Linked DNA regions of Homo sapiens: regions 2 and 3 are each reported to be linked to region 1. Evidence: microRNA targets listed by miRTarBase, many of them from high-throughput screens and not tested one by one. Region 1 holds a microRNA gene; each other region holds the end of a gene's coding sequence.

What was found. Region 1 holds the annotated microRNA hsa-miR-216a-5p (UAAUCUCAGCUGGCAACUGUGA, at 4,821-4,842, opposite strand). A microRNA usually pairs through its seed, bases 2 to 8, with sites in the 3' UTR of a target mRNA and lowers its output. Matches are read on the target gene's strand: a 7mer-m8 pairs with bases 2 to 8, a 7mer-A1 pairs with bases 2 to 7 and ends in A, and an 8mer does both.
Region 2: miRTarBase lists PPM1L as a target of hsa-miR-216a-5p. Seed matches in the 3' UTR shown: 7mer-m8 at 7,168-7,174, 7mer-A1 at 3,730-3,736 and 7mer-m8 at 870-876.
Region 3: the mRNA of MITF is a reported target of hsa-miR-216a-5p. Seed matches in the 3' UTR shown: 7mer-m8 at 871-877.

What each region holds. Positions count from the first base shown.
Region 1 is chr2:55,984,200-55,994,374 of GRCh38, forward strand. MIR216A (microRNA 216a) reads right to left here and starts at 4,860; the gene lies at 4,751-4,860. All of the region lies in intron 2 of MIR217HG (MIR217 host gene), which reads right to left. The region is part of intron 3 of LOC105374690 (a long non-coding RNA gene); the gene reads left to right. RefSeq lists enhancers at 1,161-1,220, 1,251-1,340.
Region 2 is chr3:161,068,305-161,078,102 of GRCh38, reverse strand. It overlaps PPM1L (protein phosphatase, Mg2+/Mn2+ dependent 1L), which reads right to left. Exons shown (of 4, transcript NM_139245.4): 4 at 1-9,292. The coding sequence ends at 8,946. Among named protein-coding and RNA genes, the nearest start is that of B3GALNT1, 32 kb to the left of the region's middle. RefSeq lists an enhancer at 8,358-8,407.
Region 3 is chr3:69,964,708-69,974,273 of GRCh38, forward strand. MITF (melanocyte inducing transcription factor) reads left to right here. Exons shown (of 10, transcript NM_001354604.2): 10 at 140-3,625. The coding sequence ends at 541. Among named protein-coding and RNA genes, the nearest start is that of SAMMSON, 30 kb to the right of the region's middle.

The sequences.
Region 1 (10,175 bases):
TTCTAGTTGATCCTCTAGAATGCCTCCAAATATAGAATGAATGAAGGACTCTAATATTACTTAGCAAATTCATCATTCTGTCCAGTGGGACTCCAGTTTACATGGGCTATTTTGGACATAAGGGGTAGGAAATAATTGGGTAGGGGATTCAGAAGTAGAATAGAGGTGGAGCTGAGAGGTGAAGATCATAGAAATGGAGACTGAAGAATCCACTTTTGGCTTTCTGTCTCATTTATCTGGATTCCAAATAGGCTTGAGAGTTAAGGTTAATCATATTTTCATTTTACAGATAGTGAAAATTTGGAGTACATTAAAGTATCTTAGGGACATAATTTCTAGCTTATTGTTTCTCTCTCTAGAGGTCTTATATGTGATCAAATACAGTATCTCAATTGTTTACCAGACATTTCCCTAAAATCTGTATATCTTTTCTAAAGGGTATTCAAATGAAGCCAAAGACTTGTAAGCAGAGTGGTCTTAGAAAACCTAAAGACTCCTTACTGGAGAAGGAACCCCAGGAGGAGCACCTGAGAAGCCAGTTCATCATGATGTTCCCCTCTAGTTAGTATTGTCTCTCTGTAGTTATAGTTTCTGAGTTTTGCAGCAAGATTTGACAGATTAGGGACTTGGGTTAACAACTCTTGTGGTGATTGGGAAACCAGTTTGTATTGTGTCATTTGTGTGCTGGGATGAATTGTGATAAGATAGTGAAAGTAGGTGAAGAATAGGCTTTCTTAAGATTTGATTGTTGCAAATATGCTCTATGTGATCTTCCTCAGGTAGTGTCATTAATTAAAAATAACAGGGCAGGAGTCTTGTCATAATTTTAGGCTTCTTTTGGCTATTATCTGGAGTGTCCAGCATAAGACTGCAAGTTTTAAAGTCCCAAGGACTGGGATACAGTTGGCTGGGATGACTGGATATTAAAATGTCATCTTTCCTTACAAACTACTGCAGGGAATCAGATGGGGAAGGAGAGATTCATCAAGGTGGGTGAAAAGGTCCTCTAGGCCAGTGGCTCTCAAAGTTGAGCAATAATCCACAGGCTTGTTAAAATATAGATTGCTGAGACCCACACCTAGAGTCTCTGATTTAGTAAATCTGGGATGGGGCCCAAGAATTGGCATTTTTAACAACTTCTCTAGTGATATGGTCCAGGGGCCATAATTTTAGAACCAGTGCCCTACCCTAGGCAGAGACTATTTGAGTTATTGGAAACAGGTGATCTCAAACAGGACCTTGGTAAGTGAATGTGATGATCTAGAAGGAAAAAGGCCAGAATTGAGCACCTATAGAAGTTCAAGTCCTAGTAATTATTGTAGTTCAAGAATGTTGCTTGTTGAATGTCACTATATTATTATAGGTCTTTAAGGAGTACATTTGTAACTTCCTGTTTTCATTTCCTTTCACCGCAGAGAAATCACAGAACAGAAACTCTGCTTTTCTCTGGCCAACTAATCACTACTTGAGTTTGGAAATATAACTAACATGCCTGTAGACAATGCAAAATGATAGTAAGCAATACAACTGAGATTGGCCACTATAAAACAGAATCCTAAAATTCAGGTCACAGTTTTGAGCAATCTTTAGAGCATTGTATATGCTGAAGAGTATTTCCCAGTAATTGAGGTGTGTATAATATAACTAAAAAGCAGAGGATCACCCTTTCCAGGGTATTTCAAGAGTTTTTCCAGAGAGATCCTCCTGGTATGTCCATGCCAGGTGACGAGCCCAAATTGGGTACCTTGCAGGGTTACGGATCCTGAGGGGACTTATCTGATACAGAATTAAGTCTGTAACCAGAAAAGCTCTTTCTGTCCTGCTCTACCTTAATGATAGACAGCTCTGGCTTGGATAAGACGGTTATAGAGACTCATCTATAGGAGTTTCATGGTGAATCTTGCAGTGATCATTAAAAACAGAAGCCATTTTTGTTTATTTTGTTTTGCTATTGTTTTGGTTGGGCTGAGGGCAGGCTGCCAAAGGAGGGAAAAGTGGGACTTTCTGGGCATTCAATAAGTGTTCATCATTTAGTGGTACAGCATGGGGGAGGGCCACAGAAAACTCTAATCTGGATTTCCACAGAAGACAAACATTTGGAGCCTGGGGCCATCTTTACCAGGCAGAAATATAATTCAGGTTTTCAACAAAAGCTCAGGATCACAGATTCAGCAGACATCTAAGGTCTAGTCCTGCGGACTGGCAGTAGGTTCTGCTTGTTTGCTCTGATTAAGAGGCCGGCTGCTTGCACCTTGACTTTCATAGTCTTCATGGTACAGGTGGAAAAGGGATAATAAGTGCCACGCTCTAGGTGCTGGTGAATGAGATGATGAGCTAGGAATGCTGAGGACTTAGTTCCCAGGAGCCCTAACAAGGTCTTCGGTCATCAGCAAGACAGAGCCTCTTTACTAAAAGGGTGGGAATCCTGTTGTACTCTATTTTTACTGAAGACTGGCATAAACCCAGTCTAACAAATGATATTTTGAATGTCTCATTGACAGAGATGCCAAATCCTTCACTTATTTTGATGCTAATTACTACCAGGATGTAATTCTAAAATTATTAAGCTTTAAAAGAAAAGTCAGAATCTATGTGTTGAAAGGATAAGTGATTTTCTTTTTTTCTTGAAACAGTGACTCAAGCTGTTGCCTAAAGGAGTTGGGGCTCCTGATTTCTGAGCTAATTTCCTTTTTGTTCTTTCATACTAGCTTTCCTCTTGGTTGGAATCTGCCTATCCTGTGGTCTTACATTCCTAAAGTTAAATGACAAGGAAGTTATTTGCAGTCCACAATAACTATTTTTCTTTAAAGTTTATACATGGTTAGATTCTAAGAAAAGTCTATTAAACTGTGTTACTGGTAAATAAGTCATGCCACTTCTTTAATTAAAACTCTCCAATTGCTTGTGGAGTCCCTCACACTAAAACCCCAAATTCTTACCATAGTCTACCTAGCTATACCCTCTAATCCTCTCCTTCCAGTTTTTCTCACTGCACTCCAACCACAGCTTCCCTGTTGAGCTCAAATACAGTGATTCTCACCTTTGGCTGCACATTACAATCCCCTGGGTGCCTCTTAAACAGAGATGCCCAGATCCCATCCCAGGCATTCTGATTTATCAGTGGCACAGCCCTTGATATTGACATTTTCAAAAGCTCCCTGTGCCTCTATGTGCAGAGAGCACTGGGAACATCTGGAGACTGCAAGAGTGCACTGAGTGTACACACAAGCAAGGCAACAAGCATGGTTCCTGATGCATCATATGTACTCAGCTCTTCAAAAAATATTTCCTGCTCTGTTTAATTACATTTATCTTCTTCCCTTTTTGAAAAATGGTCACCAAAAATTGGAATTGGGAATTTTTTCATGTTTGAAAAAATGATTATTTCAACTAGCAGGAGGATACAGACAACATTTAGAAAGTTTCAGCAGCAGCTTAAAAGAGCCCTTAATGAGTCCTGAAAATTAATACGAAGCCCTCTCCTTACCAGAGGTAAGTTATTTCCTGGCTTATGGTTCAGTATTTGTGCTATTAGTATGTGAATAACTAGTTCTCAAACTTACCTCCTACTGCTCAACATCAATTTCTGGCAAGGAAATCTAATAGGTCATACTAATGTGCCTTGATACAGAAATGTAATTTTTTTTTTTTTTTTTTTTGAGACAGAGTCTCGCTCTGTCGCCCAGGTTGGAGTGCAGTGGCGCAATCTTGGCTCACTGCAACCTCCGCCTCCTGAGTTCACTCCATTCTCCTGCCTTAGCCTCCTGAGTAGCTGGGACTACAGGTGCCCGCCACCATGCCCAGCTAATTTTTTGTATTTTTAGTAGAGACAGGGTTTCACCGTGTTAGCCACGATGGTCTCGATCCCCTGACCTCATGATCCGCCTGCCTCAGCCTCCCAAAGTGCTGGGATTACAGGCGTAAGCCACTGCGCCCGGCCCAGAAATGTAATTTAATCAAACTGAGATATACAGACTTCTCTTTCTGAGGATACCTGAGGGGATATGTGCCAGTCAAGACCTTGGAAATAGCATTTTAATAATTTTTGTTGTTAAAGTTATCCCACATTTAATTATAAATTTGGTTCATCTGATTTGTTTTGTGTTACTGGGTGAATGAGGAAGATAACTGGCCTTGATTTTTCACCCTGAAGAATTACATTTGTTCTTATTCTTTTTATGGAAAAGGATTATCTGTTTCCAGGGATCACCGAGAATTAGAGTTGGGTACAGCTCAAAAGTTTCATGGCAACCTCAGCCTAAGCCATAGTTGATTCTAAATTTCAATATTATTTAGGGCAGATGAATGTGAAACACTTACAGAAGGAATGAGGAAGGGCGATTAAATGTGATAATCTGGGGAGTTGAAGTTTGAGGAGGGCCTGGCAGGAGATCGTCCTCTTTTAGACTGTTTGGAATTTGATGGAGTAGCACCCACAAAGAGAGTGGGAGGAGCTTTCAGAGGGAAAATATTTTGGGTTCAGCTTCTAACACCCAAACTCCCTTGGCTGCAATTTTTTAAAAAACCAAGTAGCACTGAAGGAGCGCAGTAAGTAGCAAGCGAATCCAATAAAGGCAAATTAATTCCCAAGGCTGGTTTCCTTTCCAGCACAACAGCACTTTAGAAAAAGACTTTACTAAGATTAAAAGAGGTTGAGCATGAAACAGTAACCATCGAAACTTTTCCCCCCGTCTTGGTCATGAAATAGAAATTTGGTGTTTAATTTTGGTTGCCATGCAAGTCTTTTGATTCGTGAGGGCTAGGAAATTGCTCTGTTTAGCATAATCCCAGAGACCACTGTGAGGGATTGTATGAACATCTCACAGTTGCCAGCTGAGATTAAGCCAACTCACAGCCATCCGTGTTAGACCTGCAAGAGAAAGTGTATGAGCAGAGGCACGTGGCTGCCTCAGGTGGAAGCACATCTTCATACATCGAGTGCACCAGCAGAAGCCCTGATGTACCCCTCTGCATTTTTCTTGAGGCGACATTATCAAGCTACTCCTCTTGCTGAATTCACAGATTTCTGGCATATGCTATATTGCATGTAATGTCATAAAAGTATAATCTTTGCATTTAGAAAGGATTTACTCTAATCCATATATAGTAAGAAACAGCCAAGTAGGAGTACAGGTGAATGTAAAACCAATCACTAAAAATGATTTTTTAAACAAGCTTTATAGAGAACTTGGAAACATCAAAGCCAAACACTCTAAAATTTGTCCTCAGACAAGAAAACCAGCAATTACGTTGAAAAAGTAATGACCGTATACTCACCAAATGGCCAGATGTGTCAATAGCGGTGGCTATTACCTTTCATAGATGGTGGTATGTCCTCCCCTCTTGCCCACATCACTGTCATGGCTAAGTGAGACTGAGCCATGATCTAAGCCCCTCAGTCCACTGGGTGGGGCTAATCAATGGTAAGAATAATGATTAAGAACGGAAGGAAGAGGAAACGCCCTCAGAGTTTCCCCACCATCTGCCGTGGATGGCATCTCAACTTGAGTGAGTGTAAGAAGCACATAGGAAACTTGTTACAAATGTAGATCCCCAGGACCTACCTCTATATTTTGATTCAGTAGGTCTGGTTTTGGTGGCTGCGATTTGCACTTCGGTGGAGATTTTCCACTGCCTTTCTCCAGCTTCACTTCATACTAGACCATTTCTTCCTCTACATTGTAGACTCCAGCTCTAACAAGTTCTGAGAATCCAATGAGCTGTGTTTGCCCATACTTGGAATTATTTCTTCTTTCTCTCTCCCTCCTCTCTCTCTCTTTCACACACACACACACACACACACACACACACACCCCCTTGTGTGACAGTCACACATTGAAAACTATCACACACTGCCTTCTCTCCCCAGTCTCCCTTTTTTGGCACCTGTAATACACAATGGTGTTTTCTCACTCACATGCTTTCTCCTTCATTGACTGCAAACTTCCAAGTGTTGGCACTGTGCTTATTCATCTCTATATCCTCAACTATACTATTCTCAGTTTAGCATCTGATGTTTAATAAGTGCTCAAAAAAATTTTGTCAAACTAAATCAAATGTTTGTTGAAGCAAAGAATTATGGATTTCAGCTCATAACTTGTCCTTTAATAATTGAGACTTGACACAATTAAGAGAGTGGTAATTTACAGAGTTAGAAAAGTGGCTTTTCGTTTTAAAAGTCAGGTAAATATAAAGTTACAAAACAATTGAGAAAGAACAATTGAATATAATCTTGTGCCTCATATGGACTCCTAAGTACAAAGCTACTTTTGTAAAATAAGAATGTCTCATCATTAGGATTTAACTTTTTAAATATTGTTCTAAGTTTATTTTCTGGAGTCAAATTGCTCAGGATTAAAAATAAGCAGATTTTATCTTAATCAAAAAACAAGGGCTTCTCAGAGCAACATGAATGACGTTCAGTTTTTTCTTTTCTCTTAATCTTATATTTGATTTTCCTTTCTCTCTAGAAAGTTTAATAGTGAAAAGTTACCATAGAGAAGTGACAGGAGTATGTAGTTCTTCTTCCCTCTGCTAGAAAACATTAAGAAAAGATCATAAATGGGAACATCATATGCTGATGTGGAAGATGAGACAGCTTTTTATTAATCTTAAGTTGTCATGTCCACAACTGCACAGGGAGGTGGGCTCTCAATGGAAGCAAAGACATATACGTTTCTGCCTTGCCTACCTTAGTGGGTTGCTGTGATGGGCATTTAAAAAAGAAAAAGGAAGAAACTGATACAAAGTTGTTTTGGCAACAAAGCTATATTAATGTGGATAGATAGTCCACAGGCCAGATAAACTGAAATACAGTAGCAAAGTATCAAGGAGTAAGCTGTTTCTAACACTATCTATACATTCTGTTCAAGTATTCTGAGGATATTATCTAAGATGTCTCTATATGCATATTTTGGGTGCACCGCAATGTATGCATTTGTGATCTTAGTTCTGTTAGAGACTCTCTATAGATTTGTATTTGAGAGTAATAAATTTCAGTTTGGTCATTGGGTCTGTTCAGATGGTGGCAATTTTCCTATTTCCCTGAAGACTAGTGTTATTTATTCAAAGCTGTAATTATTTGGATATCTTCTGAAAACCTGGAGGACTACCCCTTCCTGCAGCTATCTTGGCTGTGGAATGGTGTGTGGGGTGTCGGGAAGCACATGAGCTTTGGAGTGAAGTGGACCTTGGTGTGACTCCTGGTTCTAATACTTAACTACCTGTGGGCTTTAAGGCAAATTGTTTTATTTCTTGGAGCCTCAGTTTCTGTGTTGGTAATACTTGTGCATGAGATTAAGAACTAAATGTGGTGTTTGTGAAAATGTCTAACTAGTACAGAATCTGATACACAGATTCTCCATAAATGCTAATTTTATTTTGTTTTAATTTTACTCCTATGTCCTTTGGTTAACTCAATTACTTTTTCTGTTAGTTTTACAAATCTTCCACCTCTAGAGTTTACAAATGTTATCCAAATCCCACTCATTTTTTATGCTTGTGTCTTTTTTGTTATTTTCCTCCTTCCTAGAATTTTTTCATATCCATTTCTGTATCTTGCTTGAATTACTGGTTTATTACCAATGTACTAGGGTAGTTAGTATATAGGTCAAGAGATGTCTCAATCTCTAAGTTGAAGGGCTTCTGAGTTTACATGATGTTATTGATTCCTCTGAACCTTATGGTATCTAGAGTTGATACAAGCTGTATTTGCAATTCAGTTTTCTCTTCTTTCTCTCCATCATCTGAGACATGTCCTCCCTCAAACTTCAGCCTTGAATTCTGAAACATCTCAGGTCTTTGGATACTCAAACTCAAGCTAGTGCTGAAGTAGTATTAATTTTGTTATATTTGAGTATCTTTTGCATCCTACTTTTTGGAAATTAACTCAAAACAAAGGTAGAAAATCTATATAAATCAACTGAAAAAGTGCTGGTAGATGAGAGGACCCATGAGAATCCACTCAATGTTACTCTCTTCTGTATCCTAATTTCCTAGCAGTTATGATAACTACCTGAAGTTTCCCTAAATGAACTTCTGCTCTTTGATTTCTGGTTGAGAGTCACTATCCAAGCAATAACTCTTTTCAAGTCTGCTTCCTTTCACCTTGTCTTTTTGTTATTTCTGGGACTGGGACTCTGTATCCTCCAAGGTTTGAAAAATAGCCAAACATTATTTATTATTTTTGCAGCCTTGTAGGCATTTGGAAAATGTTTGGCTTCAAATTGATTTCAATAAAATAGTTGGCTGGAGTTACAAATGAGCATTTTGGCTGGAATTGTGTTAAATACCAGTTTGAATTTTGGTAAAGCTGCCCTGAATACATCTATCTTTGTCAATGGATTTGTTTGTTTATTAAGTGCATACTTTCTGGATTTTTGTGGGAAAAGAAGGTCAGACAGAGGAACATGAGGATTAGAAGTGATTACGAACAGGGAAAGGGATTCATGGAGAGTGGTGTCTAGAGATAAGGCATTACGAGAAGGGAATTTGAGTCATAGTGTGCATAAGTGGGTGTCGAGTCCAAAGCCAAAGCCGGAACTGCCATTGAGCTGAGCTTCCCACTGGCATGTTTTCCACATTCTGAATGGTGGAGACATTCTTGAATAGGTAGTCACAATTAACAACAGAACATAAGTATTACTGATACAAAGGATGGTTCCCATAAAAAGGCTTTATCCTTCTCTAGTTCAAGCTTCTGCAAAGCCTTAAAAAGAAGCCAGCTCCACTTCAAGAGATATGGTGCATTCTACATCCCTGTGACCCAAGCGGATAAGTAATGTCCTCAGAGAAAGCCATTATTAGTAGGTTGGATAATGATAATAGTATGAGTAATTGGAGAGAAATAAAGTAGTTTCTGTTAGAATAGTCATTGGGGGCTGCCTATATGTAATTGGGTTGCAATCCTTAAGACTAAACTTATGCCAACTTCTCTTTCATAAAAAAAGAAAATTTTGGAGGTGCTCTTTCTGCAGACCAGAGACATAATAATAATTAACTTCAGTGACATGAGCCACTGATCTGCTCCATGGAATTGAAGTTGTAATGGCTGAATCAGCTTGGACCTACCTTCTCTGGTAGAGTACATCCACAGTAAAAGAAGGAGAAAAGTTTTTCCTGGAAATATTTAGGAGACAGTGTTTAGAATCCAGATCTCTGAAGATTCTTGCAACAGAGAAGAAATGTCAGTCTAAGTTCGTCAGAGTTTTCTTTTTTCTTTTTTTCTGGAGATGGAGTCTCGCTCTGTCACCCAGTCTGGAGTGCAGTGGCACGATCTCGGCTCACTGCAACCTCTGCCTCCCGGGTTCAAGCAATTCTCCTGCCTCAGCCTCCTGAGTAGCTGGGACTACAGGCACCCGCCACCATGCCTGGCTTATTTTTTTGTATTTTTAGTAGAGACAGGGTTTCACCGTGTTGCCCAGACTGGTTTCGAACTCCTGAGCTCAGGCAATCCACCTGCCTCAGCCTCCCAAAGTGCTAGGATTACAGGCGTGAGCCACCACGCCTGGCTGTTTGTCAGAGTTTTCTAAGAGGATACTTGGTTTGGGAAGATGGAAGTGATGCTAAAGGCAACAAACATGAAAGCATGGAAGATGATTAGATACTTGCAGCCTGTAAGCCTGTAAGTCTCCACGACAGAATGTTGGGCAAGAGTGCAAAAGGGTAGACTTACCCATTGTCAGCTTCTTGGAGGCAGGGGCCAAGTTTGAGATTTCTTCTGCAATTCTCGCAGTGCCTGACTGGAACTCAATGGCTTCTTTGAGGAGTTGAGTGCCATGCCACAATCTGGCAGGATTCACATCCTATAAGAAGGTGTTTATTCTAGAAGCAAATGCATCCCCATTGTCAATTTAACTGTCTAGTGACCCAGGAAAAAGGCATAACCCCTACAAAATCTCAGTTTTCTCACTAAAAAATAGGATCCCAGTATCTATCTCACAGGCTTGCTGGGAGTTTAAATAAAAATATTTACATAAAATGCCTAACAATGTCTGACATGGAACCATACAGTACTAATAACAGTGTCAAAAGCTGCTATTTAATTAGGGATGACCATGTTCTTAGCCTTCTACTAAGCATTTTATGTAGATTATCTCATTTAATCTTGACAATAACCCTTTCAGGAAGGCTGTTACAGAAATCAAACTGAAAATGGGAGAATAACCAATAGCAAT
Region 2 (9,798 bases), not on the chromosome of region 1:
TGTGCTCATGATTAAAAACAAAACAAAAACCCTACTTTTGATCACAATCAGATCTTTACCGTCTCTAACCATTTACTGCCTAGTATATGAAGTATATGAATTATTCTAATTCAATAGGATTCTAATGCAATTTGGCAATAACTAGTATTATTTGGATTTAAAAAGCCATTGGCATAAACAGAGATGTTTAGGGGAAATGAGCAGGCAAGCAAATAATTTAGAAAGAAGTGATGGTTTCTGTGGTTAAAAATAAAAGTCTGGGATTTAGTTTTTCTTTGCCATACAGAAAACAGATGTTGCTATTTTTGTTCAAAATACAAAACTTAAATTCCATGCTTAGACTCTGGAATGTGTAAAGTAACTATGGATACCAAATTTATGATTTAAAAAAATGACATTTAGTCTTCTGTTCATATTTGAAATCAGGAAATAATTGTGCTCCTGAAATGTTAACTTTCTATATAACAGATTCACTGATTTACACTCAGGAACACTGAAGATACTCAGTTCTGGGCTGTCTTTGGGGGCATAAGGTTATTACACTAGTCTCTTGGGAACAAAAATAAAAATAGGCCATGGAGAGATGTTCTTGCTCCTCCCTTTTCTCCTTTTCTATAATCCTTCTCTTCCCCTAGAAAGATCTGGACAACCTGGCTTTCACCAGCCTACTGCTGCACCCTTGCACAGCTGCTGGCCCACTTGGGTGGAGGCTTCCAGTGGCACCCTCCACTGGGACAGTCCCACCCCCCTATCCTTGTCCCCAGAGGCTCCATGTCTCACTCCCCACCCCATCCTTCAGAAACTAGGTGAGCTAGTAAAATGGAGTAATTATCTTCTGCAGTTTGCTTGAGTGTTGGCAAGAAATTCCCAATCTCATATCACTTACTCTTATATGTGAGAAATAATTATTCTAATTCTGCCCTGTCCCAACAAATCTAAGCCCATTGGAAGAAATCATGAAGATAACAATTTTCATCCCATTGGGTCAATATTGAGTGTTATAATATCTCTGACACCCCAATAGGGTGTAAGCCCCAAGAAGGCAGTGATGGCGCCTGAGTGCTCACCATGGATACATTCACTCAGACACAGTCACTGCCTGGCACATAGTAGATGCTCACACAAAAAAGGAAAGAATAAAATATACAAACACACAGCAATAATAGTGACTTTCCCAATGTAATCTGTTCATAAGATTGATCAATCTGTTATAAATGCAATGATGCTTCTATTTATTTTTAAGAAAAAAACTCATACATTTTCCTTATACAAATTATGTATGTGAGCAGAGTTTACATTGGGGTCTTTTGGAATGAACTGTTTAATTACTATTTTCCAGGTTTGTCAGAATAATCATTTATCTGAACCCACTAAAATTTCTATTTGTCTTTCTCTCTCTTTTTTTTTTTCCTGGCTGCCCATGAGAATGCTGAGACATTATCAAATAGATTTCAATTCTGTGACCTGAACTGCAGTTGTGTAAGTGCTATAAATCAAAATCATTTGCTTTAGTAATTGAAGAGTAAACTGAAAGACAATATTGTAGATGTTAATGTTTCAATGTGAACATGTAATAAATTAAAAAGAACAAACACTGCTTTCTATAATAGAAGCAAAAGTTATGGGTTTTCTCCATGGTCATATTTTATTCATTATTCTACTTTCTGCACACTGTATATGCTTGAGATAAAACAATAACCAAGATGATAAATACATAAAGACTGTTAGTTGTAGTCTGGGAGCCTAAATCAGAGGAGTATTCTTGCTTAATGTCCCATGGTTCTAGCTTTTCTCCACAGAGCAGGATTTAGACGTTTTCATTACTACACGAAGAAGTCATCATTTGTCCTAAGATAGACAAATGGGAATTTAAAAGTTATACAAAAGACATCTTTTTCTTGGGTTAGAGATGTCTAATACATCATTTCTACAGGATTAATTTTTTTAATCATATGAGCAACCTGACCCATTGCATTATATGGATTAGAAAACTCTCTAAGAAGCAAGAATATCAAATCACTCTGTGGTTGGTTTTTGTGAAATTGTCTGTCGTAAATTGAGTACTCACTAGTATTCATGTTGGCATTTGCAAAATTACCACTATGTTAAAACTCGCTCCCAGTTGTACCTGTGACTGTGTTTATCTGACTTCAGTTTTACTGTCCACGATTTGGAACGTGAATGGAATCTGGGACAGTAAAGGTGTTGAGGAGAGCAATAAATGAGATCTCATGTATCCATTTTCATCAGAAAAAAATGGAATAGGGACTGCAATTTTACTAACTTCGCAAATAACTGAGAATGTTCATTTTCTCACTTCAATGTTATCTCCTTCACTAAGAGCGTAAGTACAGAAAGCATAATTCATGATGTAATAAACTATAACACCTCCTTTTCTTAATTTAAAATATTTCCTTTTATATTACTCTCCCTTGATTTGGGCTTCTGTATTTTCTTAAAAATGCTTTCCTTTACATTCTAATTTTGACCACACTGGAAACTGATTTTACAATTTTTTATTAAAAAGTGTTCCAAACCATTTTTCTTAAATGTGATTCTGCCCGTGCCATCAGTCCTACAAAAGGAAGCTTTAAAATTAAAATGCTGTCTTCATTAACAAATAAGCAAAGCATTAACCAATACTCTAAGAGACAAGCCCATTTTTTGAATGGTGAAAAGTGGTAACAACTGCCTTTTCTTCATCTATGTGCAGGTGTCAGAAATTACTATTAAACACAACCTATATATAGTAAAAATCTGATAATCCACATTTCTTATAAGCTACTTTTTACATTTTTAATGTCTGGGTATCCTAAAGGGGTTTTTCCCTGATACTTGACTATTACATCCGCCTTTGCTTCTGCATGAACACGTTTTACATCGTGAATTATCTAATTAATATAGAAATATTTTGAGATAATGCATGATATCATATTTAATTTATGAACTGCCTCATGACAAAAGGTAATGAGAGCTGATACAATCCCTCTCCTGAAGTGGCAGCGAGTAACCCGGGCAGGCTTTGCTCTGGGTCACTCAGCCCTCTCTCCACCACAATCTGCCACCAGTGCCCTTACAGTAATCTGCTTGTGCTCAATGTCCTCGGAGGTTTTTGAGATTAACTTGGATTTGGCAAATGTTAGGTGGGATTTTGTGTTTAAATAATGCAAGGTTATAGGACTTCAAGAATAAATGAAACCACATCTCTAAATACAGTCTATGCCTTTGCTGCATGCTTGCTTTTTGGTGGAGCTTTGAACAGGGAAACTGTCTGTGATGATTTGTTAAAATGAATACTTGCTACATGCTCTCCTCAAAGTCCTTAACTTGGATTTATTAAAGCAGTTGTACGTATGATGCTGTGGTTATTACTAAACACATAAAAATTATCAATAATCAACCCTAGCCTCAACAGTTTGCTGTTCAACAGTGGTAAAAATAACAAATAGACAAAGCATTAACATTACTAAGGATCAGCAAATTTACATATTAGAAAAAATGTTTAGAAATGCATCTATTGGAAGCTTCATGGTATCAACTGCCCCCTGCCCTTTGCAATCCGCCACCTAGCCTAAGAGATCTTACTTTTAGTTTTTTAAAATATTTTGGATAATGTGCAGAGGATGAGCTATTCCTAAATATTGGATGTAATTTTAAGTTAATGACTTTTGCCTTAATTCACTCTGTACCATGTTTTCGACTAGATTTGTTTCATCCATGACTTTGGGGTAATCTCTCATAGCTTCCCAAACCTATTTCTGCAGCCAAGAGTAACTACTGTGGAACTACAGGAAGGCCTCACATTTTAGGCAAGAGATAACATGCCAAACTTAACTATGTACATAAAACATGAAAGGTGGGATGATATGGGACAGGAGTTTTAGAAGGTATGAGCTCTAATTGATTTCAAATTATTTCACTGAATCCAGAGAGGACAATAAAGGAAAGAAAGTAAATAACTGTTAATAGTTTACATTTCAGTTATTATATAACAGATCATTAGTTTTAAAAATCGTTAAAATTTCAAAAGTGAATTAAAATCAAATTTCTGTTTTTCCTTTTCTGTGATTTTCTGTATATTTTTAAATATCATATAGTAATGAAATATAAAAATATTCATTTTGATTCAACCCAAAAAGCAAAGGTAACTGCAAAAAAGCAATGGAAAGATCTTGGAATGAATTTGAGACATATTTAGCTATGGCAGGGCTCTTGCTCATTATTCATATAAAAGAAAGGGATGGCCGGGTGCAGTGGCTCACACCTGTAATCCCAGCACTTTGGGAGGCCAAGGCTGGTGGATTACAAGGTCAGGATATCAAGACCATCCTGGCTAACATGGTGAAACCCCGTCTCTACTAAAAATACAAAAAATTAGCCAGGTGTGGTGGAGGCCGCCTGTAGTCCCAGCTGCTCAGGAGGCTGAGGCAGGAGAATGGTGTGAACCTGGGAGGCGGAGCTTGCAGTGACCTGACATTGCGCCACGGCATTCCAGCCTGGGTGACAGAGCGAGATTCCGTTAAAAAAAAAAAGGGGGGGATGATGTTTAGAGCTTTAAGTAGGATTGTTCTGCTATCAATATGAGGCTGCTGTTGGTCATATTAAGTCATACTACTTCTTAACACTGCTTTTATTAACAAGTCAGCTTCATATATGAAAGGCTCATGCTTCTAAGTTGCAAATTGTACTGCTACTAAGAGTCATCGTGAATGAAAACACAGCAATATTTCAATATACCAGAATTTCCCAAAGGGTGTTCTTTAGAACACAAGTTCCTTGCAGTGTTACTAGGTGCCACTCAAAAAAGTTTCTGTGGTCAAATTAATCTGGAAAACACTGGGCTAACTGACAGTAGATATTTGTTGTGTTTTTCTCTCCTCACAGGACATTTAAATTAGAGCCTTTGATGTGCTCATGTTCACTAACTTTCTAAGATGGTATGTGTTTTCCAAACTTATTTCATCCTAGAATCCTATATTTAGAAGAGCATCTTTGGAACTTGTGTTCTTTGGAACACACTTTGGGAAACACTGGATTCTATTATTTCTACAGCTAACTAGCTCAAAAGTCTAGCTATCAATGACTTAATCCAGAGGCAATTAAACAGGCATAGTATCTAACAGTCATGTCATTTCTCCAGAGCTGGATGACAAATGCTGGTGTGACATGCTAAGGCAATTTTGGGGAACTATTAGGGTATGAACAGTCTAGTTGTGGGTCAAAAGGAGGAAAAAAGAATTTCTGAAATCATTGGAAAAGTTTTATACAAAGTATATATTCCTATAGTTTCAAATATACAATGATATGCTGCCTTTTCTAAACACAGACCTTTCATTGACACAGTTGCAAGAGAGATCTGGCAACAACTTAGAGAACAAAAAAAATCAGGATAATCAAGATACACCTTGATACACAAGTTCCTTGCAATGTTACTAGGTGCTACTCAAAAAAGTTTCTGTGGTCAAATTAAACACAAAGGAAATTAAACGCAAAGGAAAACAGTGGACTCAATTTCCTAGAATCCAACAGTGGAATCAATTTCCTAGAATCACTTCAGATTCAATTGAAATGATGATGCCATCACTCTCATGCAATCCTGTTTGCCATTTACCCAAAATGATGTAATAATTACACTTGTATGAAATAAGGTCTGTTTTAAATTATCCAGCTTACATCCTTCACTATAACACTCTCTGTATAATATTCTTATGACATATACAAGATTCAAGAAGCCAATACCTCAGTCCACAGCAAGGAATAAAATGCAGCCACTGGTTACCAGTACTATGTACATATGTACACAGATATGTCACATTAGAACAGCAATTCAGAGTTAATTGCCTTGGGGCAAGTTGGTCATATAAAATAAATAATACAGGTCTTGGGAACAGCTTTGGAGCTTTCTATATGTGTTGTTTATTCCTATGATGAAAGAATTTTAGATACAATTAATTAAAAAAAATTTCCCTAGCTGTCCCTCCCCCAACCTATGTTAAGAGTACAAATTGCCAGTGGAGCAGCAGCAGAGCACTGCATTAATGGAGACCTGGGCCTGGCATCGTGCTGGGGTCTCAGAAGCACATGGCCATTCCTGTCTTCATTTCTAAAAGACTGTAAAACCATCCCAAAATTTGGCACCATGGGGACTATTGGCAATTCGAACTCGAGCTAGCTAGGGAGTCTAGGAAGCCTTGGGTGACAATTCCAAAGCTTTGGCAGTGCTGCTTAGGGAAGCTTCACATGCAAACATCTCAAATCAATTTCCCTAATGGCTAGATTCAGCATTCCCAGGTCCCTGGGGAGCAGCCAGTGTACCATAGGGCACCCCCAGGAGTGATGTCTGCACATCCCCAACAGCTGGAAAAGGGCTAGGGAGAGAGAGCTCCAGAAGGAAGGGAACAAAATACTCTGATTTTAGATATAACTATCCTAACAACTATTAATGAAACTGCTACAGTTTTGCCTAGAACTTCTATCTTTTGAAAATCTACAAGCCATAGTAGGGGGGAAAGAGGCAGTAATGGGAGTAGGATATATACACTCTATTTGGTTAACATCAGAAATGAATTAATTGTACAAAGCAAAATTTAGAAGACGCCTTGTGAACCTCAATTAGAGAGAAAGTTATGTAACTCGTGCACTCAGCACCATCTGTTAAGAAATTCTGCAGGGCACGTAACCACTGATTTACTAATTTAGTAGCTTTTCTTTTTCATCTTTATCAAAACACTGTTGCTTTCATTTTAGACAATAAAAATAACCGGAATTTAAAAATGTCTTTTCCTTGCTATTATACATTTTTGTGCTACGTTAAAAATAAAGAAAGTTGGCTATGGGCTGTAAAGTGCTGACACCATTGGTGCTGATTTCAGTTTGATGGTGGGTGGGGGCAACTCTTAGGAGTCAGAATGTCCTGAATTTCCAAGCAAACTCAGCCGCCTGGCCTGGCCATCTCAGCACTGCTCACAGCCAGCATTTGTTTTCCACATTCCCTTCCCTGTCCCCACCCCAAATATTAATACACACATCCACATATTCAGTGTCTCCCCATAGGCAAATGCTTAAATCTAAAATGGTGGCAGATATTTTTTACTAGAAGATTCTATGGCTAAAAAACAATAACCAAGGTTCTGTAATGCTGGAAAATACAGTATACAAAAGTAAGCAAATCTCATGGGAAATCATTAGCAATTCTCAGTGCAGTCAAAGAAAGTTAAGTGCTTGGAGAAATCAAGACAGATTGCAGCCCTCCACATCTACAAGGCAATTTCTTCACTCTCTCAAATTCTCTCCTGGACACTGCTTTGGGAAAACTCTACAGCAGCAGGAGGGGAGAGGGCAGGGTTCCACGGCGAGGAGGTGGCCGGTGAATGTGGCATATGGGAAGCTATAACCACAAATGCTCACAGGGAAAGAACAAAACCAGGTGGATACAGAGGGCTGGGAGGCAACGGAAGTTTCGTTTGGCTGTTTGAGTCACCTTAGGCAAAGAGAGTGACCCAGCATTTTCTCTAAATAATATAAAATACCAAGGTTGGAAAAATGATAAATTAGCGATACAGGAAATGGAGAGCAGCAAGCCAGGCCCCTAAATAATTCTGGCCCACTTATCAATATGGGTTCACGCTTGAATTCCTGACTTACTGTGTTGCAACTGCCAGGTCCCTTTGCTGCCTCCCCTGCAGGCCTGCAGGCCACGGGGCGGTTTGTATTTGCCTGGGGAAAGCTCCCTGATGTGGATGGAGATTTGCAACCAAATGTTGAAGACTGCTGCCTTTCCATTGTCAAGGAGAAGCTTATCCCAGTAGTTTCCCACCAAATCCCAAGCTGCAGTAGCTGGGAACTCTGCACCTGGCTTCAAGGAACACACATACAGTTATAGGCTGCTGCTTCTCAGAACACTGCCTGACACTTGAAAACCACTTGGAAAGGGGCAAGGAAAAACACAAAAACTGGCAGCTGGAGCTCAATTCAGGGTGGTAACCTCACCAGCTCACTCCTTTCTCAATGCAAACAGCTTACTTGCCAGGGAACACTGTGACTCATTCAGTATCATTTCCTTCATCTACTGTTGAAAATGGAAGGAATCATGGTATTGTGGCTTGCTTTTTTCATTTCCCCTAACGTGGTTTCTTGGTCACGTAAGATGAAAAATCAGGGTATCTGTTGGTGAATTTAACAGCTGCCTATTACATATGGTAAGGACTAAGCAAAAGGTTAACGGTCATGCATGATTAGGATAAATGCACAAAGGCTGGTCAGGTGGTATACAAAGTCTATTTAACTATTAAAGGAAGCAAGGGAAGAGGGTTATCTCTGCTGTGCAGGCAGTTGCCACTGGTCTCTCATTCTCTCTGCTTCTCGCAGTCCCCAAGAGCAGCCAAAATAGTAAACCATTCCAAATCTGCTTCCAAGCTGCTACTGAGCAGAAAACATGGGCTCAGAAGGACAAAGCATTCTCAGGACAGCTCTGTCTCTTGGCAGAGGGTGTTGCCACATCAGCCCCTGACCACTCACAGGTGACGCAGTGGCCTGTCTCCTGCAGCACTGGGTGGTCTGTCCTGTCCACTGTTACAAAGAGAGGACACAACAGCTGATGCCTGGAGGACCCTGAACAGGATCTTGAAAAGAATCTTCAGGGAGACTAAATGACACATATGCTATTCACTTCATATATGTGACTCTACAGCTATTTACTTATATATTTTGGACACTGGATGAAAGAGTTGGGAAAACATGAAGAAACCATTTTCCAGTTTCTTAACTACATTGGCCAAGGGCACCCTCTGTTCGTCACTGATTATAGACCTAAGACCACCAGGGAGGGGGGATTCCATGTCTGGGGTGGATGATCCTAATTACAACTCCCACACTTTTCACTAAATTAAAAGAGACCAGTGTGTTGAAAGTCCTTTAGTCTAAGGCAGCTGAGACCCCTGAAGGGTTCACTGCTCTTCTGTTTTGCTGCTATTTCTGAACTTCACCACCATGACTGTTATATTGTCAGGGCAGCCTCTGTAAAATGACTGTAAAACTATGCTCTTGGCCCCAAAGTGAGGTTCATCCAAGCGCTCCTTGATGAATCGAACTGCTTCTTCATTGCTGAAAGCATCCCAGAGACCATCTGATGCCAAGATCATGAACTCAGGCTGAAGCTTGTCCAGGTCAAAGGTCAGGATGTCTGGGTCTGGGATGACCACGTTGAGATTTTTCAGCGGATAATCCCCCAGGGACCGAGACATGGCCAGGATTCCCTGGACCCTCCAGGAGCCATTGAAACTGATGAAACCACCTAGAAAGACAGGATGAGCCCATTAGTTTGACCAGCTGATATCTCACTTACCTGGGATAGTCTAGGTACGTGCGCAACAGGGTGACCTACTTCATGTGAACTGGGCTGTGGGCACTCCCCTTAACCCCATCACTCCTGGGACCCACTGCATGGCCTGGGGTTTTATACTCTACCAGTTGATCCTCATACCCTCATCCTGGCATCTTGAAGGATTTCAATAATATATCAATAAGAGTACTGAAGGTGGCGGATACATATGGGGGAGGGCATTGGTTTTTAACTTAACACCGTGGTGGCTCAGTGATTGACAGTAGAGAGCATGAGGGTAGGGATTTGAGGAGAGTGGCAAAGGAATGCTGAAAGGCAGGTGAACAGGCACCGTATATATCATTTGGCCTGAGGCCACTCATAAGTGTGCCTATATAGGTCTCAAAACAGCTCTGTCCCCCCAAATAGGATCAAGATTAAGAAAAAGCACACACTAGTATAGTCATTAAAGGCTCAGG
Region 3 (9,566 bases), not on the chromosome of region 1:
GTATTGTACATTTTGTGGGTTTGGCCAAATGTCTAATGACGCGCATCTACCATTATAGTATCATATAGAGTGGTTTCACAGGCTTAAAAGTCCTCTGTGCTCTGCCTATTTCAGTGTTTTATCTTTACTCTTATTATAGGAACTTGAAATGCAGGCTCGAGCTCATGGACTTTCCCTTATTCCATCCACGGGTCTCTGCTCTCCAGATTTGGTGAATCGGATCATCAAGCAAGAACCCGTTCTTGAGAACTGCAGCCAAGACCTCCTTCAGCATCATGCAGACCTAACCTGTACAACAACTCTCGATCTCACGGATGGCACCATCACCTTCAACAACAACCTCGGAACTGGGACTGAGGCCAACCAAGCCTATAGTGTCCCCACAAAAATGGGATCCAAACTGGAAGACATCCTGATGGACGACACCCTTTCTCCCGTCGGTGTCACTGATCCACTCCTTTCCTCAGTGTCCCCCGGAGCTTCCAAAACAAGCAGCCGGAGGAGCAGTATGAGCATGGAAGAGACGGAGCACACTTGTTAGCGAATCCTCCCTGCACTGCATTCGCACAAACTGCTTCCTTTCTTGATTCGTAGATTTAATAACTTACCTGAAGGGGTTTTCTTGATAATTTTCCTTTAATATGAAATTTTTTTTCATGCTTTATCAATAGCCCAGGATATATTTTATTTTTAGAATTTTGTGAAACAGACTTGTATATTCTATTTTACAACTACAAATGCCTCCAAAGTATTGTACAAATAAGTGTGCAGTATCTGTGAACTGAATTCACCACAGACTTTAGCTTTCTGAGCAAGAGGATTTTGCGTCAGAGAAATGTCTGTCCATTTTTATTCAGGGGAAACTTGATTTGAGATTTTTATGCCTGTGACTTCCTTGGAAATCAAATGTAAAGTTTAATTGAAAGAATGTAAAGCAACCAAAAAGAAAAAAAAAAAGAAAGAAAGAGGAAAAGAAATCCATACTAACCCTTTTCCATTTTATAAATGTATTGATTCATTGGTACTGCCTTAAAGATACAGTACCCCTCTAGCTTTGTTTAGTCTTTATACTGCAAACTATTTAAAGAAATATGTATTCTGTAAAAGAAAAAAAAAATGCGGCCTTTTCATGAGGATCGTCTGGTTAGAAAACATAACTGATACCAACCGAAACTGAAGGGAGTTAGACCAAGGCTCTGAAATATAAAGTCTAATCTTGCTCTCTTTTATTCTGTGCTGTTACAGTTTTCTTCATCAATGAGTGTGATCCAGTTTTTCATAAGATATTTTATTTTGAAATGGAAATTAATGTCCTCTCAAAGTAAAATATTGAGGAGCACTGAAAGTATGTTTTACTTTTTTTTTATTTTATTTTTGCTTTTGATAAGAAAACCGAACTGGGCATATTTCTAATTGGCTTTACTATTTTTATTTTTAAATTATGTTTTACTGTTCATTTGATTTGTACAGATTCTTTATTATCATTGTTCTTTTCAATATATTTGTATTAATTTGTAAGAATATGCATCTTAAAATGGCAAGTTTTCCATATTTTTACAACTCACTGGTGGTTTTCCGCATTCTTTGTACACCCATGAAAGAAAACTTTTATGCAAGGTCTTGCATTTAAAAGACAGCTTTGCGAATATTTTGTAAATTACAGTCTCACTCAGAACTGTTTTTGGACACATTTAAGGTGTAGTATTAATAGGTTAAAACCAGGCTTTCTAGAAAGAATAAACTTACATATTTATTTTTAGGACATGAAAATAGCAATATTCTTGGAGATTGATAACCATAGCATTAATACGCCCATTATGGTCATTTAAATTGGGGTTTATTTCAGCAAACTTGTTGAATTTATTTTTAAGAAAGAAATACTGTATTGGGAAGTTACTGTTACTTGATAACAATGTTTTAACAAGAAGCAATGTTATAAAGTTAGTTTCAGTGCATTATCTACTTGTGTAGTCCTATGCAATAACAGTAGTGTTACATGTATCAAGCCTAGATGTTTTATACAGATGCCATATAGTGTTATGAGCCAGGCTGTTGAATGGAATTTCTCAGTAGCAGCCTACAACTGAATAGCAAGTGGCATAAAGCATATCCATTCAGAATGAAGTGCCTTAAATATAGCAGTAGTCTTTTTTGGACTAGCACTGACTGAACTGTAATGTAGGGGAAAGTTTCATGATGGTATCTATAGTCAAGACGAACATGTAGCATGGTGCCTATGTAGACAATATAAGAGCTTCCAATTTTCCTTCAGATATTTTTAATATTAAATATATTTTAGTGACAGAGTGCCAACTTCTTTCATCAGGAAACCTTATTCAGGAGGGTTTTTAAAAAGTGTTTAAATGTCAAATGTGAATTGGTGATGGGTGATGGAGGGTTCAGAGAGGAGTGATCGTCAGATGTGTGAATGGACGGTTTAGGTGAAAATAATCAACTGCATAGTTCCCATGCACGCTGGGCAATGAGAATCCTTGGAAACATTGGTGATGCTATCAGTTTTATAGCTTTATTTCTTAAGGGGGTAGGGAAAATTAGTTCCCATTCTTTCAACCCCCTTAACTGTATAGCTCTTTTCCTAGAATAGTGACGCAAATCTGCATGAACAGCTAATTGTACCATAGTGTTCATTGATACAATCATAGCATTGTCTATTTTTCTCTTCATATTTATATGGGGGGGAGGGCGCTGGATGCAAAAGTTGAAGATCGTGATGCTATGATGTTAGTTTTCCTTAGCTGATTTTGAGGGTTTTTAAAAATAAAGCAAGGTTGACTAACCTACGGCCACGGGAACAGGACCATGGTTAAGCAACCATATAGAAAGCTTTGTTGAAAGAAAGTATGGCATCTTGTACCACTGCCCTGACTGTCACAACTCCTAACCTTGCCATTGCCTGCCTCCCCCTCCCCTTCTCCTTAAGAGACAATTTCTGCAGGTGGCAGGTGAGCAAGCCCAGGAGAATGCTGCAATCTTGGGGGTGGTTTTATTTATTTCTTTTTTGCCAAATAGAGTGTGGATTCATTTCAGGGGCTAGCTAAGCCAAGAGGCAGTGGTTTGGGCTTGTTGTTTGTAACAAGAAAATGATCCACACCACTCCCCCGATTCCCGGGTGCAGAATTGTAACTCGGGGTTGGGCCTCTATATGGAGTGACCAAAATGCCAAAATTGTCCATCTGCCTCTGAGTAGGGCAATGGAAATACCAAACCTTCTGACTTTGCCAAAAAGCATACAAGCAACCTGGTCATACATAGGATGACAAAATTCTTTCTGGTTGTTTTTAAACAATAAAGCAATAAGAACAAATACAATACATAGGAAGTTAAAAGCACAAAGGAATGAACTTATTAATATTTTTGAAAAATGCACTGGGAAAAAGTTGATGTCAATAACAGTATAAAACAGCCCTATTTCTTGATAAAAAATGACAAATGACTGTCTCTTGCGGATGCTTGGTACTGTAATGTTAATAATAGTCACCTGCTGTTGGATGCAGCAATAATTTCTGTATGGTCCATAGCACTGTATATTATGGATCGATATTAATGTATCCAATGAAATAATCGACTTGTTCTTGATAGCCTCATTAAAGCATTTGGTTTTTCACATAGTGGTGGCCTATTGTGTTAATGCCAATTTTGAATGCTATCTGCCATATCAAAAAATGGTAGTGCACATTTTCTTCTGATTTAATGAATAACAAATTGCATGAAAATTTAGAAAATGCCAGTAAGTACTTTTTTTGTTTAAAATGCCACTCTAAGATGTTACTTTTTGGTTTTAAACATTTTTGATTACTTTTTGACTTACACTCAGATGAGGTGTAATTATGCACCTTTTTTATCCCCCTCTGAATTTGGGGAGATTTTAAACTCCCAAATGCCAAGACTTCATTTTAGATATAGGAGTTTTATTTAAAATGTTTCATTGAGAGGTGGCTTTAAAAAAGAGAAATTGTCAGAGAAACCCTTGCATATTTACAGAAAAGATATTGGGTTTTTAAAATACAAATTTACAATAATGAAAGCTTAATATACCCAGGCTGCCAGCTCCTGGTTGCCTTTTTTTTTTAATACACTACTTAAGAATCATTTGATAAATGTTGGATTTGAATTGGGAAGTGTCAGACAAAACATGTCTTTATTCCCTAGCTAGACCTTAAACTTCTGCCCTTTTAAAAAATATATTCTGGCTTAACCTCTGGAGAAAATGAGCAAGAAACTTCCTGTAATGCTTCTGATCTGACTGTCAGCTTTTTCCTACTTTTAATTTTCTTCTTAAATTGTAATATACAATAATCAAGGCCTTTCTTTTTTAGACCTATTTGAATTATTTATATTTTCCCTAGAAGTATAACTGTAGGATCCCTTAAAAACATGTAAAAGTAGAAAGATTTCCTTTTGGAACAAGAGAGAATATTCTGGGCAAAATCAAAAGCAAGTAAGTTGAAAATTGGGGCTTTTCATCTCCGGGGGATCTGCAGCAATACCTTCACCCACATTTCTGTCCTGATATTTACCAGTAAATAGTCATTTCACAGCCCATAAGAATCCTTCATCTTTAGCTTCCCCCACTTACACACAGACACACACACACACACACACACACACACACACACAATTAACGTGTTATAGTGGTGTTACCTGAAGATTAGACATTTGCCTACAGTGTGTATGACTTCATTTGATATCCACAGAGTTACATTTCTTAAAATTTTATTAAGCCAATTCACTTTCAAATAAATTATATCCGTTCAATCACCACACATGACCTCTCAGTTAATCTTCCTGGGTTTGAATCTTATCTCTGCCCATGTCTAGCTCTATGATTTTGCGCAAGTTATTTGGCCTCCCTGTGCCTCAAAAGTAGCTACCACATAGTGGTCTTGTGAAGACCATTCGAGTTAATAATACTAGAATTTGTGCTTGACAGCACATAGTAAATGCTTAGTAAATGATAGCTTTTCTTATAATAATCACCTTCATTACTAAAATGGAAAATACTTTCTGGACCAACTAAAATCATCATATGTATTAGCAGTGACATGCACACCACATTTGGCAAAGCACTGAATTACAACATAGATTGAAGACATGTGTAAACTGGCCAGGGGACAGAAGCCACAGGCTATTTAGGAGAAAGGAACCTTGCTGTTTGTAAGACCTAGGGTAGGAATATTTTAGAGAATTAGTAATAAACTCAAAGTATCACATTAAAATATCTTCAGCACAAATGACCTAAAATTTAAATTGTTTTAAACCTGTACATTCTGCATGTATGCTTCTGCCATGAGAATAATTATATTATTTTCATAAAATATGCCTTAGTGAAGCTGAAATCTTTATTATATTCTTTAGAAAATTAAACTGTTTAATCCTTTGCAATATACACTGATATTATACAGCTAAGAGTGGTGTCTTGACTATATCCTGTCTTCAGTTTCCTATCAATATTGAAATGTTTCTCAGGATTTTATTTTCAATTGTACTTACATTTGATGACTTCTTTGGAAAACCATCTGAGAAGTTAATCTTCATAATCCAGCCAACATAAATGAACTCTTAGAATTACTCTGTTTTTATTTTTTTGTGTATGCCAAGACTTAATGCATAGCCAAGTAGCATGAGGAAAGCTCCTTTAAGAGGAGCGTTGTAAAGTTAGATTTTCATTATATTTAGAGAGAGGTTGTGATGATCTCTTAATTCTTTGCTGCCACATCTGAGGCTCAATAGCAGTGGCTTTATGTCTGTACCCATAATAACATGAATCCATAATACACGTCTGAACAGAGTGTAAGTGAAGAAGCTTTTATTATCCCAGTTTTCCCAAGAGGCATATATCCTCCTCCCCTCAAAAAAGTGTAGAGTAAATCTGCCATATTAAAATTGTCAAGGTCCTGTATATACATAAAATGTAGACATGGTTAATTGTATTTGTGTTCAGTATTTGTAGGTCTTTTGAGCCTATTACCTATACCAGATACACTGGAAAGTAATATGAGTATACACAAAACCAAATAAATTTCAGCAACGCATGTAAATGGTAAAGACAGTTTGCTTTTGAAAAATTTGCATTTTAAATTTCTAATTATGGAGTCAGTTGAAGATATATCCAAATGGGTGCAATTGTCACTCAAAATTCCTTACATATTATTCAGACAGCAAAATCTATGTAAATAGAAGCCACGAAACTAGTGTTTCCCAAACTTCACTTTATGGAACTAGTTCCACAAGCTGTTGCACAAGTTGCTTTGAGGAATGGGGGTTTGGAGGTGGGCTGGGGTCAGGAAATGCTATACTGTAGTTAATTTTGAGGAAGTTAGCTTTGGGAAATGCTGAGCTAAACAAATGTGAACAAGTATTTCTACTGCAAGACTTCTCACATTCTAAATTATGCTAATGGGATTGAGAGTTCGTAACATTTCCCAGTCTCATTTGGCCACAGGATTGTGTGTGTGTGTGTGTGCGCGCACGTGTGTAAGACACCTGCTAATTGTTCCAAAGAACACAGTTTGGGAAATTCTGGAGATTTTACAGAAATTATTTAAACTCAATAAATTTTTTTTTTGTTTTCCTAAGGCAAGTATGCTTACGTTTGTTTATGATTCCATAGGTAGACGTCATTGTCATTAAAAAAGTATTACTCTGAAGAAACAAATTAGCTTAGGTTTTCATCTCCATTGAAAATATAAAATTCTGATTAAGGAAAATATTGGCATTAAGAAACTGTTATTCCTGAATTTAAAAAGTAACATGTTTTCATTTTCAAAGAAAATATTCACTCTGGTTACACACATGTTCAATGTACCTTTTGTATGAGTGGTACTATAAAAAGTTCTTTAAGTTGAATGTCTCCCACATCTTTAAATATGGACAACCTAATGTTTAGGAAATATTTGGTTTATAACTTTAGGTTCAGCTTACTGGTTTTTGCTGGAAGGACATTAGGAAGAATTGTATGGTATTCAGAATTGATGTAGTCTTGTCAATGACTCTTTTTCAATGAAGGTAAGTTCTGACAGAGGGATCAGGTTGTATCTCCAAAGTTCGGTTGTTAATTGGTTATAGGCCAACCCACAAGAGCTATATTAATTCTTACATGCCTGTAGTATATTATAGGACTTACTAAGATTGTTTTAGAATTTAAACACTGTATTATGAAGCCCAAGGGAAAATACATTAACACACCTTTTCCACTCCTTACAGATGAGATCACAGATTTCTTTCATTCAATGTCTTTTAAAAATACTTTTCAGCCCTCACTCTTCGCCTAGGAATAAACGGTGAGCAGAGGAATTTCACTCCAGTGGAATGAAGGAATTTATTGGCTCATATTACCATAAAGTCCAAATGGCAAATATAACTTCACGTATGCCTGGGTTCAAGGGCTCAAACAAGCATTCAATCTGCTTGTCTCTAATTTTCTTGGTGCCAACCTCCTCTTGGAGGCAGGTCTTCTCCATGAGGTCCCCTCTGGCAGTTTCAAAGTCCAGTAGAAAGCCAGCACCTCTTTCCCAGTTGCTATGGTGAAGTCCCTGTAGTAGTTCTGATCAGCCCTACTTGGTTATGATCACCATAACCCAAAAATGGAACACACCAGTGGGCCAGGTCTGGGTCACGTGTCCACTCTGCTAGATTCATTCAGCAGCACCTAAACCTTGTAGACCAAGAGACAAGGAGGTGGGACTCACCCAGACTCCAAAGGATACTGTTCCCAAAGCGGGAAGAGGAATCTCTGTAAGCAAAACAACAGATACTCATTGCTTGGACTTCAAGAGGACTGGACAAACTCTACCCTTGCCAATCTTTTGCCTTTTCAGATGCACAGATTTGGGACTTTTTTCTTCCTTCACCCTTAACCCCAGGGTGATAGAAAGGGAGGGAAGGAAGATATTAAATCCCTACAGCTGCATCTCCCTCTTCCTCATTATTCATGGCTCATTTCTCATAACCAGCTCTCCGGCTCTCACCCCCTACTCAATCCTCTGCCAGACAGAGATCCTAAGACCCAAGTTTTGCAATAAAATACAGTCATGTGCCACATAATGATGTTTTGGTCAATGATGGATTGCATATGTGATGGTGGTCACATAAGATTACAATGGAGCTGAAAACTTTCTATCACCTAGTGACATTGCAGCTGTCATGCCATGAGCTCAATGCATTACTCACATGTTTGTGGTGATGTTGGTATAAACAAGCCTACCGCACTGTCAGTCATAGAGAATTATAGCACATACAATTATGAACGGTAACATAATACTTGATAATAAATGACTATATTACGGATTTATGTATTTGCTATTTATCATTATTGTAGAGAGTACTCCTAATTGTTAAAATGGCAGGTCCTTCAGGAAGTATTCCAGAAGAAGGCATTGTCATCAGAGGAGATGACAGCTCTATGCATGTTCCTGCCCATGAAAACCTTCCAGAGGAACAAGATGTGGAGGTGGAAAACAGTGATATTGATGATCCTGACCCTGTGAAGGCCTAAGCTAATGTCTCTGTTTTTGTCCTTGTTTTTAACAAAAAAGTTAAAAATTGTTTTAAAATGAAAAATAGTAAAAAGCTTATAGAATAAGGATATAAAAAAGAAAAATTATTTTATTTACTTTTATTTTTATTCTCTTTGAGACAGAGTCTCACTCTATCCCCCAGGCTGGAGTACAGTGGTGCGATCTTGGCTGACTGCAACCTCCGCCTCCCGGGTTCAAGCGATTCTCCTGCCTCAGCCTCCTGAGTAGCTGGGACTACAGGTGTGTGCCACCAAGCCTGGCGAATTTTTGTATTTTTTGGTAGAGACGGGGTTGCGCCTTGCTGGCCCAGCTGGTCTCATACTTCTGACCTCAAGTAATCCACCCACCTCGGCCTCCCAAAGTGCAGGGAATTCAGGTGTGAGCCTCTGCGCCCAGCCAAGAAAATATTTGTGCACAGCTGTACAATGTGTGTTTCACACTGTGTTATTACAAAACAGTCAAAAAGTTAAAAGCATCAAAAAGTTTATAAAGTAAAAAATTATAGTAAGCCAAGGTTAATTTATTACTGAAAAAAGAAATTTTGAGTAAATGTAATGTAACCTAAGTGTACAGTATTTATAAAGTCTACAGTAGTACAGTAATGTCCTAGGCCTTCACATTCATTTACCACTCACTCATTGACCCACCCAGAGTACCTTCTAGTCCTGTAAGCCCCATTCACGAGCCCTATACAGGTATCCTATTTTTAAAATCTTTTATACAGTACTTTTACTGTACTTTTTCTATGTTTAGATACACAAATGCCATTATGTTAAAATTACCTACAATATTCAGTATTCAGAGGGCTCACCAAGCACTCACTCCTCTAAATACAAATGGACTCTTACTTCTGTCATTTCTAAAGCCAACTTTGTTATCATGATGTTTTCAGTTGCCCATTGCAGAAACGAAACTCCATTTGGAAAAAAAAAAAAAAGGCAGGGAGGAGAGAGGGGAGTTTACTGGTTTTCATAACAAAACTCCAGGGGTGAAACTCAGAATGGTGACTTCAGGTGCTCAAATGACCAC